Regions from separate parts of the Homo sapiens genome. Here all the other regions are linked to region 2. Evidence: fine-mapped expression QTL. A gene starts in region 2. Each other region holds a variant in brackets. All regions are shown on one strand. Distances are from middle to middle.

The links. PIP is the estimated chance that this variant, and not a neighbour inherited with it, causes the effect.
Region 1: its variant is fine-mapped to the expression of HOMER3 in whole blood (TOPMed, PIP above 0.99).
Region 3: its variant is fine-mapped to the expression of HOMER3 in whole blood (TOPMed, PIP 0.98).

Annotation. Positions count from the first base shown.
Region 1 is chr19:18,969,312-18,974,532 of GRCh38, reverse strand. No RefSeq gene overlaps it. Among named protein-coding and RNA genes, the nearest start is that of HOMER3, 31 kb to the right of the region's middle. The variant C/T (reference allele first, on the strand shown) is at 2,097.
Region 2 is chr19:18,939,129-18,944,349 of GRCh38, reverse strand. HOMER3 (homer scaffold protein 3) reads left to right here and starts at 3,133. Exons shown (of 10, transcript NM_004838.4): 1 at 3,133-3,299. HOMER3-AS1 (HOMER3 antisense RNA 1) reads right to left here and starts at 4,096. Exons shown (of 3, transcript NR_134913.1): 1 at 3,726-4,096. RefSeq lists a silencer at 2,970-3,169.
Region 3 is chr19:18,980,520-18,985,740 of GRCh38, reverse strand. No RefSeq gene overlaps it. Among named protein-coding and RNA genes, the nearest start is that of HOMER3, 42 kb to the right of the region's middle. The variant T/G (reference allele first, on the strand shown) is at 2,324.

The sequences.
Region 1 (5,221 bases), 30 kb before region 2:
TCCAGGTCAGGTGTGGTGGCTCACACCTATAATCCAAGCACTTTAGAAGGCTGAAGTGGGCGGATCACTTGTGGTCAGGAGTTTGAGACCAACCTGGCCAACATGGTGAAACCCCCATCTCTACTAAAAATACAAAAATTGGCTGGGCGCAGTGGCTCACGCCTGTAATCCCAGCAGGCTGGGAGGCCAAGACAAGTGGATCACCTGAGGTCAGGAGTTCAAAACCAGCCTGGCCAACATGGTAAAACCCCATCTCTACTAAAAATACAAAAATTAGGCCGGACATGGTGGCTCACACCTGTAATCCCAGCACTTTGGGAGGCCAAGGCAGGCAGATCACGAGGTCAGGAGATCGAGACAATCCTGGCTAACACGGTGAAACCCCGTCTCTACTAAAAATACAGGCGCTGGTGGGCGCCTGTAGTCCCAGCTACTTGGGAGGCTGAGGCAGGAGAATGGCCTGAACCTGGGAGGTGGAGCTTGCAGTGAGCTGAGATCGTGCCACTGCACTACAGCCTGGGCAACAGAGCAAGACTCCATCTCAAAAAAAAAAAAAAAATTAGCCTGGCATGGTGGCAGGCGCCTGTAATCCCAGCTAGTGAGGAGGCTGAGGCAGGAGAATCGCTTGAACCCGGGAGGCAGAGGTTGTAGTGAGCCGAGATCACGCCATTGCACTCCAGCCTGGGCAGCAGGAGTGAAACTCCATCTCAAAAAAATAAAATAAAATAAAATAAAATAAATGGCCGGGTGTGGTGGCTCATGCCTGTAATCCCAGCACTTTGGGAGGCTGAGGCGGGCGGATCACCTGAGGTCAGGAGTTCGAGACCAACCTGACCAACACAGAGAAACCCCATCTCTACTAAAAATACAAAATTAGCCGAGCATGGTAGCACATGCCTGTAATCCCAGCTACTAGGGAGGCTGAGGCAGGAGAATCACTTGAACCTGGGAGGCAGAGGTTGCGGTGAGCCGAGATCACGCCATTGCACTCCAGCCTGGGCAACAAGAGCGAAACTCCATCTCAAAACAGAAACAAACAAACAAAAATTCCTGCAGGACGCCTTACTCAAGACTGCAAATAAGAGAAACTCTCTCTCTCTCTCTCTCTTTTTTTCTTTTATTTTGCGACAGATTCTCAATTTGTTGCCCAGGCTAGAGTGTAATGGTGCCATCAGGGCTCACTGCAGGCTCAGCCTTCTGGGCTCAAGCGATCCTCGGCCTCTCAAGTGATCCACATCACCCGAGCTAGAGAAACCCGGGGTCCTGATGCCACAGTGGTAAGACCTGCCATGCCGCTGGAGAGCAATAATATGGCACCCACTGCATGCCAGTGCCGTGCCAGCACCAAAGACAGAAAGGGTGGCTCAGGAAGGTTCTGGATTTTGGATTTTAACTTTTGGCTGTAGATGGAGGGTGCTCTTATCTGCTTCTGGGCCAGTGGGACCAGCCCTTTCCTGCATTACCTCACCCCAGTGCTGGTGGGAGGACAGTCTAAACTCTATTCACAGAGCGTCAGAGAGAATGAAGCCCTCGGTTGGGTGTGGTGGCTAACACCTGTAACCCCAGCAATTTGGGAGGCCAAAGTGGGCGGATCACTTGAGCCCAGGAGTCCAAGACCAGCCTGGGCAACATGGTGAGACCCCTGTCTCTACACAAAATACAAAATTTAGCCATGGGTGTTGGTACATGCTTGTGGCCCCAGCTACTCAGGAGGCTGAGGTAGCTGAGGATCACTTGAGCCCTGGGAGTCGAGGCTGTAGTGAGCTATGATTGTGTCATTGCACTCCAGCCTGGGTGACAGAGAAATTTCCTGTCTAAAAAAAAAAAAAAAAAAAAAAATTCGTGGTGCTGGAGCCTCTGAGGAAATGCAGCGCGTAGGAGCTGGGGCTCCCCTGCCTGCACCCGGGGCCTCTGCAGATGACCAGAAAAACTGCCCCACAGGAGCTCAGACTGGCCAGGGGGCCCCAAGACCCACGCTGAAGGCCAGGTCCTGCCAAAAAGTGCACACGGGGTAACTGTCATTTCCCCTAATTAAAAAAATGTTGGTCAATTTCCTGATGGAGAAACAAAGAAGCAGAAAAGAAAACAAATAAAAA[C/T]CCTGCAACCCCTCCCTTAATCGCTCAGCTCGCAGAGATAATCTCCGTTGGCATGTTCATGACCGCTTTCCAGCATTTCTTTGCCTGCATTTTCAAAACGGTCTTATTATATTTTTGTTCTTATCCAAGAAATGTGACTGTATTGGAGAAGAAACAGCCAACAAGATAAGCAGAGAGAAAAAATAAACAGAAATTATACCTCTCGGCCGGGCACCGTGGCTCACGCCTGTAATCCCAGCACTTTGGGAGGCCAACACAGGCAGATCACTCGAGGTCAGGAGTTTGAAACCAGCCTGGCCAACATGGTGAAACCCCGTCAACATGGCGTGAAAAAAAATTAGCCAGGCGTGGTGGCGTGTGCCTGTAATCCTAGGTACATGGGAGGCTGAGGAAGGAGAATTGCTTGAACTTGTGAGGCAAAGGTTGTAGTGAGCCAAGATCGCGCCATTGCACTCCAGCCTGGGTGACAAGAGTGAAACTACGTCTCAAAAAAATAATAATAAATAATAATAAACGGCCAGGCATGGTGGCTCACACCTGTAATTCCAGCACTTTAGGAGGCCGAGGCAGGTGGATCACTTGAGGTCAGGAGTTCAAGACCACTCTGGCCAACATGGTGAAATCCTGTCTCTATTAAAAGTATAAAAAATTAGCCCGGTGTGGTGGCAAACGCCCCGTAATCTCAGGTACTCGGGAGGCTAAGGGGAGAGTATCGCTTGAGCCCGAGAGTTTAACAGCATGGACAACATAGTAAGACCCCTGTCTCTAAAAAATAAACAATTTAAAAAAAATTTTTTTTTTGGAGACAAGAGTCTCCTTTTGTCACCCAGGCTGGAGTGCAGTGGCGCAACCTTGGCTCGCTGCAACCTCCACTTCCCGGGTTCAAGTGATTCTCCCGCCTCAGCTTCCCATGTGCCTAGAATTACAGGCATGCGCCATCATGCCCAGCTAATTTTTGTATTTTTAGTAAAGACAGGGTTTCTCCACGTTGGCAGGCTGGTCTTGAACTCCTGACTTCAGGTAACCCACCTGCCTCAGCCTCCCAAAGTGCTGGGATTACAGGACTGAGCCACCATGCTTGGCCAAAAGTTTTGTTTTTAAATTTAATGTTTATACTTCTTTCCTCTGCTTAAAAAAAAATACAACATACATCTCTTGGCCAGGCACAGTGGCTCACACCTGTAATCCCAGCACTTTGGGAAGCCGAGGAGGGCGGGTCACCTGAGGTCAGCAGTTCGAGACCAGCCTGGCCAATATGGTGAAACCCCATCTCTACTAAAAATACAAAAATTAACCAGGCATGGTGGCAGGCACCTGTAATCCCAGCTACTCAGGAGGCTGAGGTGGGAGAATCACTTGAATCCGGGAGGCAGAGGTTGCAATGATCCAAGATCGCTCCATTGCACTTGAGACTGGGCAACAGAGCAAAACTCCGCCTAGAAAAAAAAAACAGAAAAAAGTAAAAAGAAAAAAAGAATTCATCTCTCTCACACACATACACACTCACATAAACACACACATATATATACACACACACACACATATCTACAACTCATGTAGGACGGGAAAGGCTATCAGCCCCACCCACCCAGCAGAGCTCCACCTGAGGCAGGTCAGAACAGGAGACAAATTAAAGTTCAAGGCCGGGGCGGTGGCTCACGCCTGTAATCCCAGCACTTTGGGAGGCTAAGGCAGGCAGATCATCTGAGGTCAGGAGCTCAAGACCAGCCTTGGCTGACATGGTGAAACCCCGTTTCTACTAAAAATACAAAAATTAGCCAGGCGTGGTGGCGCATGCCTGTAATCCCAGCTACTTGGGAGGCTGAGGCATGAGAATTGCGTGAAGCCAAGAGACAAGTTGCAGCAAGCCGAGATCGTGCCACTGCACTCCAGCCTGGGAGACAGTCTCACTCTGTCTCCCCCAAAAAAAGAAAAAAAAATAGATATGTGATTCATCCAGAGTTCAGGCTTGATCCCTGACATGGATGAAACTGTCAAGTTATTGAGGCTAATTTCAAAAACTTTTTTCTGTGTGCTATTTTGTTTTAATTTTTTGAGACAGGCTCTCATGCTGTCCCCCAGGCTGGAGTGCAGTGGCGTGATCATAACTCACTGCAGCCTCCTGGGCCCAAGACAATTCTACCTCAGCCTCCAGAGTAGCTGATACTACAGGCACGAGCTACCACACCCGGCTACTTTTCAAAGTTTTTGTAAAGGCGGGCTGTCACTATGTTACCCAGGCTGGTCTCGAACTCCTGGGCTCAAGGGATCGATTGCTCCTGCCTTGGCCTCCCGAAGTGCTGGGATTACAGGCATGAGCCACCATGCCCAGCCTCTTTTATTTTGAATACCAAAATAATACAATAGTTCCCCCTTGCCTGTGGGGAATATGTTCCAAGATTGCCAGTAAATTCCTGAAACTTCAGAAAATACCAAACGTGTATGCACTGTTTTTTTCCTATGCATACATACATACCTATGATAAAGTTTAATTTATCAGTGAGACACAGTAAAAGATTAACAACAATAACATAATAAAATAGAAAATTAATAAAATTTGGATTTCTGGAACATAAGCACTGTAATACTGACACGGTTGATCTGATCACCCAGAAGATTACTAAGTGACTAGCCGGCTGGTAGTGTCTATGGCGTGGGCACCCTTAACAAAGGGATGATTCATATCCAGGGTGGGAGGGGGCGGGGTGGGGACTGATTTCATCACACTACTCATAACGGCAGGCAACTGAAAACTTACGAATTATTTCTGGAATTTTCCACTTAATATGTTTGGATTGAGGTTGATGGAAGGTAGCCAACACCACAGAAAATGAAACCTCAGGCCGGGTGCGGTGGCTCACGCCTGTAATCCCAGCACTTTGGGAGGCCCAGGCAGGTGGATCACCTGAGGTCATGAGTTCAAGACCAGCCTGACCAGTATGGCGAGACTGCATCTGTACTAAAAATACAAAAATTAGCTGGGTGTGGTGGTGCGTGCCTGTAATCCCAGCTACTCCAGAGGCTGAGGCAGGAGAATCACTTGAACCTGGGAGGTGGAGGTTGCAGTGAGCCGAGATCGTAGCACTGCACTCCAGCCTGGGAGACAGAGCAAGCCTCCATCTCAA
Region 2 (5,221 bases):
CATGTTTTGACCAGGCTGGTCCCAAACTCCTGACCTCAGGTGATCTGCCTGCCTCAGCCTCTCAAAGTGCTAGGATTACAGGCATGAGCCACTGCACCCAGCCCAGTTCTTTAGAAGAGAGGCCTCCAGACCTAGGAAGAAGAGGGCCCAGACTGGGGTGGGGGCAGCAGCTCAGGGCAGCCCTCGTTAGAGACGAGGTCTCACTATGTTGCCCAGGCTGGTCTCGAACTCCTGAGCTCAAGCGATCCTCCAGCCTCGGCCTCTCAAAGTGCTGGGATGACAGGCATGAGCCCAGCCCCTTTCTGTGACTCTTATGTTACCTGTTTATTATATGACCAGGTCTAGGTGCTCCTCTAGGGCTGGCCCATCCATCCTGAAGCCTCAGTCTGACCCAGCATAAGAGTGACTATTCATCCCAGCAGGGAAACTGAGACACAGACTCTGTTTTCCCAGCTGCAGCAAAGAGTGGCAGGGCCTTTGCCCACGAACCTAATGGCAGGCACCCCAGAGGACAGCTGCTGATATTGACTAAATCCTTCATGTTTCTCCCTCTACTAGAAGCCCTGCAAGCATCGGCCCATTTTCCAGGTGAGAAAACTGAGGCCCACACTGAGGAAGCCAGTGCCTCAGTGTAGACTTGGCTAGTCCAGCTTCAGGTTGGGGCTGCTCAAGGCCAGCCCTGTCCCAGCCCCTCCCAGAGACCGGAGAGGGTGTTCAGGAAAGCAACTCAACCCTTCACTGTCTCTTTCACTGTTGCTTTCTGCCCACACAAAGGGCAAAGTCTGCCTGGGCCCCTCGCCCAGCCGCCCCTGTAAAATAGCCACAGGGCCCCACTTGTGCACTTGGCAAACTCTAAGCAGCTTCCAGAAGCCTTGGCCATGCCAGCACCTTTCCCAGATACTTTTTTATTTTTTCCATTATTTTGTTGGTAATAAGGAAAAGTCATTTTTTGCACAGAACAGACGGTATTTTCTTTGCTCCCCACAATGTTCAAGCATTTCGTGGCTTCCGGCCTGAGAACAGAGCCAAATCCTTCCCTTGTGCAGATGCCTCGTGAAGTTAGAAGCAGCCAGGGAAACCGAGTCTGTGCCTCAGTTTCCCCTGTGGGATGAACAGTCGCTCTTGTGCTGGGTCAGACTGGGGCTTCAGGATGGATGGGCCAGCCCTAGAGGAGCACCCAGACCTGGTCATGTAATAAACAGGTAACATAAGAGTCACAGAAAGGGTCTGGGCTCACACCTGTCATCCCAGCACTTTGGGAGGCCGAGGTGGGAGGATCACTTGAGCTTAGGAGTTTGAGACCAGCCTGGGCAACATAGTGAGACCTCGTCTCTAAAAATAAACTTTAAAAAAGAAAAAAAAAAGAGTCACAGGGATTGGGACAGGGGAGGGCAAGATCCCTTCCAAGGCCAGGGTAGTCAGAGAGGCTTCCTGGAGGAGGAGACAGGGTGGTGGCGCTGAGCCTGGAAGGACAAGGCAGAAGAGATGCCTGCAGCGAGGGCATTCCAGGTGGAAGGAACAGTTTGGGCAAAGGCCTGGATGGGGGAAGACTCAGATCTTGGCGCAGGAGTCAATCTCCAAAAACAACCTGACCTGGAATTCACCTAAAGGTAATTTGAATGTAATGTAACCGCCAGCTCAGATATACTATTCTTCTTAGAAGGAAACAGAAATAAAGGAACAGGGAAAGGAGACAGGAGCAGAGGTCTTGGAGATGAAAAGCAAAAGCCTCTCTGAAGTTGTCAAAACACTCAAGTGTCGGCCAGGTGTGGTGGCTCACGTCTGTAATCCCAGGACTTTGGGAAGCCGAGGGGGGCAGATCACTTGAGGTCAGGAGTTCGAGACCAGACTGGCCAACATGGTGAAACCCCATCTCTACTAAAAATACAAAAATCAGCCAGGTGTGGTGGCATGCACCTGTAGTCCCAACTACTCGGGAGGCTGAGGCAGGAGAATTGCTTGAATCTGGGAGGCAGAGGCTGCAGTAAGCCGAGATTGTGCCACTGCACTCCAGCCTGGGCAACAGAGTGAGACTTTGTCTCAAAAAAAAGAAAAGAAAAGAAAAGAAAAACTCAAATGTAAGATCAGAGCTTTAGGGCGCCACAGGCCTTGGTTCCAGGGAGCTGCAGGACCTCTGTCCACAAACGAACCAACGGCGCCGCACCGTGTGATTTTGGAGACGGTGCCAGAGAGGGGGCGGCACCAGGATTGACAAGTGGGACACATGGGCTTGGGGCTGGGGAGGTGGATCCTAGTTCAACTCCGGAAGGATGCTCTCCTGGCAAGTGTGGGAAGGGGGTGCTCCCTGTGACCAGAGGTGACAAACGCAGGCCAGTGGAGGCTGAGGGGATGCAACCATGCGTTGGAGACATTTCCTCAGCCTTTGGATTTTGGAACCCTCAAACAACAGCAAAGATAACCTTAATCCAACCATTGTGGGCATTTTTACCATCGTCTTGGGAGGGACAGAGGTGGACAGACGTCCCTGCTTAGGGATGGGACGGGCAGGGGAACAGAGGCTTCTCTCTCTTTGTCTTGCTTCCCGTTCCCTCCCGAAGTTGATCTCTTCCGTTTCCTGGCAACACCCATTGAGCACTTACTGTATGCAGACCCTGAGACCCACTGCCCCCTCCCCAACCTCACTGGGCCACCCATGTCAGCCCGGGAGGGACCTGACCTCCCTCACAGGCCCAAAGTTATGACCTCAGGTAGTGGGGACAGAGGCAGCTGTCTCCTGAGAAGGTGACAGGAGGGTGAGGTCACATCGCTGTCCGTGCAACTCTCTCCATCTGCTTCCTATCTCTCCGCCTGTCTCCCCCGTGTCTCTGTTTCTGGGTCTCTTTCTCATCCCAGATGTCCCTCTCCGTCTGTCTCTCTGTCCCCACCCTCTGCTCCCAACCCGACCCCACGCAACCCCCCCCCCCACTCCCCCTCCACCGCCCCTAACCCCCTCCCTCAATCCTCCGTCCCTTCCCCAGTCCCGGCCCCCGCCCCTCCCCCTTATCCCCTCCCCCATACCCTCTCCCAGTGCAAAAAGCCGGCAGGGGGCGCAGCGGGGCGGCCTTGGCGGCCCGGGGAGGCGGGGCGGGCGGCGGCCGCGTCGGGACCGGCCGCGATGGGACCGGAGGCGGCGCGGGCGGCGGCGGCGCAGACAAAGGCACGGGCGGCGTGGAGGGCGGCGCGGAGGGCGCGGGCCCGGGAGCCAGGGAGCGAGCGGGGCGCCCGGCAGCGCGGAGTCAGCGCCGCGGGGGCCGCACCCGACTCGCGCCTGGACACTCGCGGGGCGCCGACCTGGCAGGGTGAGCCCGGCCTGCCGAGCCTGCGCTGGGAGCGCGGGGGCCTCGAAGTCCCAGGGCCAAGGGGAGGGCGTGGGGGTTCCCCAGAAGTTTCGGACCCGGGACTGGGAGCGGCGCGAGGGGTCCCCAAGTTCCAGGGCTGGAGGGAGCGCGGGGGTCCCGAAGTTCTGGATTCAGGGTCTGAGAGGGGACTGCGTGGGAGGTTCCCAAAGTTCTGGACCCGGCGTTGGAGGAGGCTGCGAAGAGGTCCCCAAAGCTGCGGACCTGGGGTGGGGTACTGGGGTGGGAGGGGTCCGGACGTCCCGGACCCAGGGACTGGAGGGGTGGCAGGGGGTCCTCGAAGTTTAGGAGTCTAGGACAACGCGGAGGACCGGGGTCCCGGACCCAGTTAGAGGAGGAGTCACGAAGGGAGTCCCCGGAGTTACCGACCTGGGGTTGGAGGAGGCAGAAGAGGTGTCCCCCGAAGTTCTGGACCCAGAGACAGGGGGCGTCGCGGGAATCTCGGAAGTTCCAGGGTCAGAGCCCGCGTCCCGGAGTTGGGGCGTGCACTGGGTGTCCTGCCTCGGGTGGGGATGGGATCCTGAATTAATATTAACCCCCCCGTCCCCCGCACTCGGGTGCATGGGATGGGGCCTCATCCACCGGCCAGATTGGGGATCCCGGGCACCGGGCGGTGTCGGACCCCCCTCCGGGAGCCCCGTGGCCGGCGGCATCCGAGGCGCATGACTAGTTGGTGAGTAACTTTCCCCAAACGCTGCAAGTCGCAGCAGGAGCTGCCGGACCGGAAGGGCCTGGGTTCCGGGGACCCCTGTGTTCCCCAACTCCCACCCGGCGCAGGACCCGCCCCCAGTCCAGGCCAGAGCTGCCGCCCCACCCCCACTCAGGGGCTCCGGTTTCAGACCCTGTGACCAGGACAGCAGCTGCCCAGGACAGGATAGGGGGGGCATCCCCCCTTTGACCACAGAGGCCGCTGGGCCAGGGCCTCCCCTCCCCCACCTGTCTTCCCCCTCCTCCAAACTCCTCCTTGGTCCCCTGCAGATTCGGGGTTGCTGAATGGCCCAATGGGGAGGTTGGGGAGCCCTGGTCTCCCAGTGTGGATTCTGCTCTGCCCTCATGGTGGGCATTGGGATTGGCTGTTTGTCTACATCTTGTCTTTTTAACTTGGCTGGGGGCTCCCTGGGGATTTGGACTCTGGACTTCAAGGTGTGCTTCTGCCCTAGGGTGGGAGCTGCTGGGGGTGGGGTCCCTCTGCAGGGTGTAGTGGGGAACTGGTCTCCTGGTACTACACACCTCTCAACGCCCCATTTTTTGGTGGAGAGCCCCGCTCTGGCCAGTCATGGGTGAATGTGGTGGAAAGAACTCAGCAGAGATTTGGCCTCCACAGCTCAGCCTGGGATGGAGGGGACTTCACGGGGGTGCAATAACCAGGACAATGAGAAATTTACATCTGGATGTCAGCGGCCACCAGGCTCCTCTCAGAGGGCCATCTCCTGTACAGGGTGTTGTGGGGGCTTCCCCTAGACAAAGAAAGATGGGGTCTGCTTGCTCTGAGTTATCTATAATAATTATCTTACCTTTTTGTTTCTTTTTATAATTTCTTTCTTTTTTGAGACAGGGTCTCACTCTCTTGTCCAGGCTGGAGTGCAGTGGCCTGACCATAGCTCACTGCACTGCAGCCTTGACCTCCTGGGCTCAAGTGATCCTCCCACCTCAGCCTCCCCAGTAGCTGGGACGGCAGGCACATGCCACCACACCCAGCTAATTGTTTAAATTTTTGGTAGAGATGGGGTCTCGCCATGTTGCTCAGGATGGTCTCGAACTCCTGGGCTCAAAGGATCCTCCTGACTCAGCCTCCCAAAGCACCAGGTGTACTTTGGGCCTCTCCTGCCTTTTTGATTGAAAGTTCCATGACGGGCACACCTGGT
Region 3 (5,221 bases), 41 kb before region 2:
CATCATTTTTGTAAAAATCTTGTAAAATGTAGACAAGCCCCCCGTATATGGCAATGTTGGGCTGTGTTTCAGCACAAAGATGGGTCTACTCCAAACCGGCCACGTGGTAGGGAAGCGTGTGGGGTCCGGGCAGGGGTGCCACCCCCCACCAACACCCAGCCATGTGCCTCCTTACAACCAGTTTGAAAGGAAAATCCACTGAAGAATGTTTAGAGGAAGTAAAAACAGCAAAGCACTTGCTGGCAGCAATTGTCGGCCTTTGTTTCGGAGGCAGCTGTGGTCTTAGGAGAAAAAAGGATCAGATTTGAACCAAGACAGTTTCTTCCTGTGTCAAATGGGGAAATAAGCCTGGCTTCCTCCCAGGGCCATTGTTCAAAGGCTGCTGTGAAAAACCCTCTGACATCTCCTTGGCAGAGGCTCTGATCGGCTTTTTACATCTTGTCTGTTCACTCATTCATTCATTCATTCATTCACCACACATTTTTATTTGTTGGTTTTCGTTTTGAGACAGGGTCTTACTCTGTCGCCCAGGCTGGAGTGTAGTGGTGCCATCTCGGCTTACTGCAACCTCCACCTCCAAGATTCACGCAATCCTCCCACCTCAGCCTCCTGAGTAGCCGGGACTATGGGCACGCGCCACCATGCCCAGCTAATTTTTGTATTTTTTAGTAGAGAGGGGCTTTTGTCATGGTGCGGTGGCTCATGCTTGTAATCCCAGCACTTTGGGAGGCCAAGGCAGACGGATCGCTTGAGGTCAGGAGTTTGAGACCAGCCTGGGCAAGACGGCAAAATTCCGTTTGTACTAAAAATACAAAAATTAGCCAGGCATGGTGGTACACACACATAGTTCCAGCTACTCGGGAGGCTGAGGCGAGAAGATCACTTGAACCCGGAAAGTGGAGGTTGCAGCGAGCCGGGATGGCGTCACTGCACTCCAGCCTGAGTGACAGAGTAAGACTCTGTCTCAAAAACAAACAAAAAATTTATCATCATTATCATTATTATTTTTAAGACGGCATCTCACTCTGTAGCCCAGGCTGGAGTACAGTGGCATGATCATAGCTCTCTGCAGCCTTGACCTCCTGGGCTGAAATGATCCTCCAGCCTTAGCCTCCTGAGTAGCTGGGACTACAGGCATGTATCACCATGCCTGGCCTGATTTACACCTTTTAAAAGAGCAGTCTGGAAGGGCAGGGCAGGAATGAAAGCAATTCTGAACTGTTCCATCTATACCCCTCGGTTCCAGCCCCATTTAATGGCAGGCACCTGTGCAGGGTATCAGGGCTACCCTGGGCTGCTGGAGCACCCTTTGCCTGAATGCCCACTGGAACCAGAAGTGCCTGGAATTGACATTCCCCAGGGTAACCCTGACAGCTGACGAGGGTGGGGTGTGAATAACCTAGCCAAAAGACACAGAGACATAGACCCCGTGTGCTGGCCAGCTATTTGGTAAAACAACCATTCTCTGGCAGTTGTCTGAAATGTGGCCTTAGACAACGTTGTAGGCTCCGTCTCAGCCCCGAACCCCATGGAGGTCACTTGCAAGGAACCCAGAGCAAACCTGTCCTTTCTGGCTTGGACGTCCCACCTGCCTACTCTAGAGCCTTTGACAGTTTCCCTGTTTCAGTCCAGAGATGTTCACCCTCTCCTTTCTGGCTCTCCACGTTCTTGGCAGGTTGTTGCAAGAGGCAGAGATGTCTGGGAGCAACTAAGTCCCTCAGAACGCAGAAAACCTTCTTCTTCTTCTTCTTCTTTTTTTTTTTTTTTTTTTTTTTTTTTTTTTTTTGAGACAGAGTCTCACTCTGTTGCCCAGGCTGGTGGAGTACAGCAGCTCAATCTGGGCTCACTGCAACCCCCTGTAACCCCCACCTCCCAGTTTCAAGCAATTATTTTGCCTCAGCCTCCCAAGTAGCTAGGACTACAGGCAGGCACCACCATACCTGGCTAATTTTTGTATTTTTAGTAGAGATGGGGTTTCACCATGTTGCTCAGGCTGGTCTTGAACTCCTGACCTCAGATGATCCATCCGCCTCTGCCTCCCAAAGTGTTGGGATTACAGGCATGAACCACTGCACCTGGCCAGAAAACCTTCTTTTATCCAAGTCCAAGTAAGCAGGAGTCCAGGGTGGGCACCCGGGGGGCATCCCTAGATAGCACTGGATATCTTATAGCGCCAGGCATGGCAAAGAACGCTTGGCACCTGTGCTCCTTTCACCTTAGGCAACCACAGCTCCCTTTACAGACGAGGAAACTGAGGCCCAGAGACGTTGGTTAACAACTCTCTGGGGCAGGCAGGTGGGACGTCCAAGCCATTTCCAGAAAG[T/G]TCAGTTCTTAGGGCTGGTCTTTAGCTGTTTTTTTTTTTTGTTTTTTTTTTTTTGAGACAGAGTCTCATTCTGTCACCCAGGCTGGAGTGCGGTGGCACTGCAGCCTCAACCTCCCTGAGCTCAGGTGATCCTCCCATTTCAGCCTCCCAAGTAGCTGGGACTACAGGCATGCACCACCATGCCTGGCTAATTTTTTTTTTTTTTTTCTTTTTGTAGAGACAGGGTCCACTATGTTGCCCAGGCTGGTCACAAACTGTTGGGCTTGAGTGATCCGCTTATTTCAGCCTCCTAAAGTGCTAAGATTACAGGCAGGAGCCACTACAGCCTGCCTGGTCTTTGACTTTCTGTTTATCCTCATAGACAGCAATGAGGGCAGCCTCAATTTTCCAATTTCTCTGCTCTCCTAATGAATGAAGTAACTGACATGTTTATAGTGCTGTCTCTGCAGCACTAAGGGCTGAATACATGGGAACTCTTTGGGCTGCATAAAGCCAAAAAGGGAATTAATTGGTGGATGGAATTGGAAAGGACACCTTCAGGATCAGCTGGATCAAGGCACTCAACCAAAACCACCAGCCTCTCTCTCTATTTCTTGGCTTTGCTGTCCTTTGTTTACAGGCAGGCAAGATGGTGGCCAGCAACTCGGAGCCTAGCCTTACCCATTTAAGCAACATCACAAGAGCTCTGTTGTCTGATAGGGGTGGCACAGACACCAAGATTGTCTATTATTGCCCCAGCCCGGGGCATATGCCTGTCTCTGAACCAATCACAGTGGCCAGAGGGCTACAATACACTGATAGCTAGGGCTTCATTGGCTAAGAAGGGGGAAAGACCCCAAGCACAACAAGATGCTGTTCACAGAAGGACTAGGAAGAGCCCCTGCAAGTGGGCAGAATCAGAATCGGAACCCAGCTCTTCACTCCTTAGCTATATTGGTCTCAGCTGCTTTCTTTTCTTTTGAGACAGAGTTTTGCTCTTGTTGCCCAGGCTGGAGTGCCATGGCGTGATCTCGGCTCACCACAACCTCCGCATCCCGGGTTCAAGCGATTCTCCTGCCTCAGCCTCCTGAGTAGCTGGGATTACAGACATGCGCCACCATGCCCAGCTAATTTTGTGTTTTTAGTAGAGATGGGGTTTCTCCATGTTGATCAGTCTGGTCTTGAACTCCCGACCTCAGGTGATCCGCCCACCTCAGCCTCTCAAAGTGCTGGGATTGAGATTACAGGCATGAGCCACCACGCCTGGCCAGCTGCTTTCTGATGGACACTTTCACCCCTTCAAACACCTTCCACTTCAAACTCACCATCAATCAGGTGCAGTGGCTCACACCTGTAATCCCAGCATTTTGGGAGGCCAAAGTGGGAGGATCACTTCAGCCCAGGAGTTGGAGAACAGCCTGGGCAACATAGGGAGACCCAGTCTCTATAAAAAATTTAAAAATCTAGCCAGGTGTGGTAGCCCATTCCTTGTAGTTCCAGCTACTTGAGAAGCTGAGGTGAGAGGATCACTAAAGCCCAGGAGCTCAAAGCTGCAGCGAGCCATGATTGTGCCACTGCACTTCAGCCTGGACAACATAGGAAGACCCTGTCTTTAAAAAAATTCAGGCCTGGCTGGGTGCGGGTGGCTCATGCCTGTAATCCCAGCACTTTGGGAGGCCGAGGCAGGTGGATCATTTGAGGTCAGGAGTTTAAGACCAGCCTGGCCAACATGGTGAAACACTGTCTTTACCCAAAAATTAACTGGGCATGCTGGCACACACCTGTAATCCCAGCTACTCAGGAGGCTGAAGCAGGAGAATCACTTGAACCCTGGAGGCAGAGGTTGCAGTGAGCCGACATCACGCCCCTGCGCTCTAGCCTGGGCAAAAAGAGCAAGTCTCCATAATAATAATAATCATCATCATCATCAGGCCCCCTGGGACCCTCCTCACTGAATCCCAGTCTCTGCTCTCTCGCCTTCTCTGAGCCCCAATTTCCTCATCTGTAAAATGGGTCATCAGGAGCGTCTTGTACTCAGTAAACAGCCAAAGGTCACATTGGATTTACAGAAAGTGAGATCCAGATTCAGAGAGCAAGGAGGCTGGGCGTGGTGGGTCACGCCCGTAATCCTAGCACTTTGAGAGGCCGAGGCGGGCGGATTGCTTGAGGTCAGGAGTTCGAGACCAGCCTGGCCAACGTGGCGAAACCCTATCTCTAAAATACAAAAATTATCCAGGAGTGGTGGCACAAGCCTGTAATCCCAGCTACTCAGGAGGCTGAGGCAGGAGAATCACTTGAACCCAGGAGGTGGAGGTTGCAGTGAGCTGAGATCATGCCACTGCACTCCAGTCTGAGCAACAGACCTAGACTCCATCTCAAAAAAAGAAAAGAAAAACATAGAAGATAAGTCCTTGTGGGGGGTCCTCAGTCAGGGCTGGCGTTGAACTTTCTGTTTATCCTCATAGATCATGAGGAGTTTGGGCAGCCCAAATTTTCCCATTTCTCCACTCTCCTAATGAATGAAGAGGCCAACATGCTGTTTTTAATCCCATCTTTGCAGCAGACATGAATAGCTTCAGGAAGGAACTGGCCGGCATGAGCCAGGCCTGGTGCAGGCTGGCCTGTGAAGTGTCCACATATAAACATTCCTGCAGTTCACGCCAACAAAGGAGAATATGCTCATTTTCATTTTCATTTTGAAAATTAGATTTATTTTGTTGTGTTGGTTAGATTCCATAAAGTTCAGTTCATGGTCAGCCCCCACCTTCAACTTGGCAAACTCATATTCATCCCCCAAAACCCAACACCCACACCCCCTCCTCCATTCTTCAAAGGTTCATAAAATGCTACATCTCTCCCCTCTCTGTGCTATAAGAGAAACATCCAGGCTGGGCACGGTGGCTCACGCCTGTAATACCA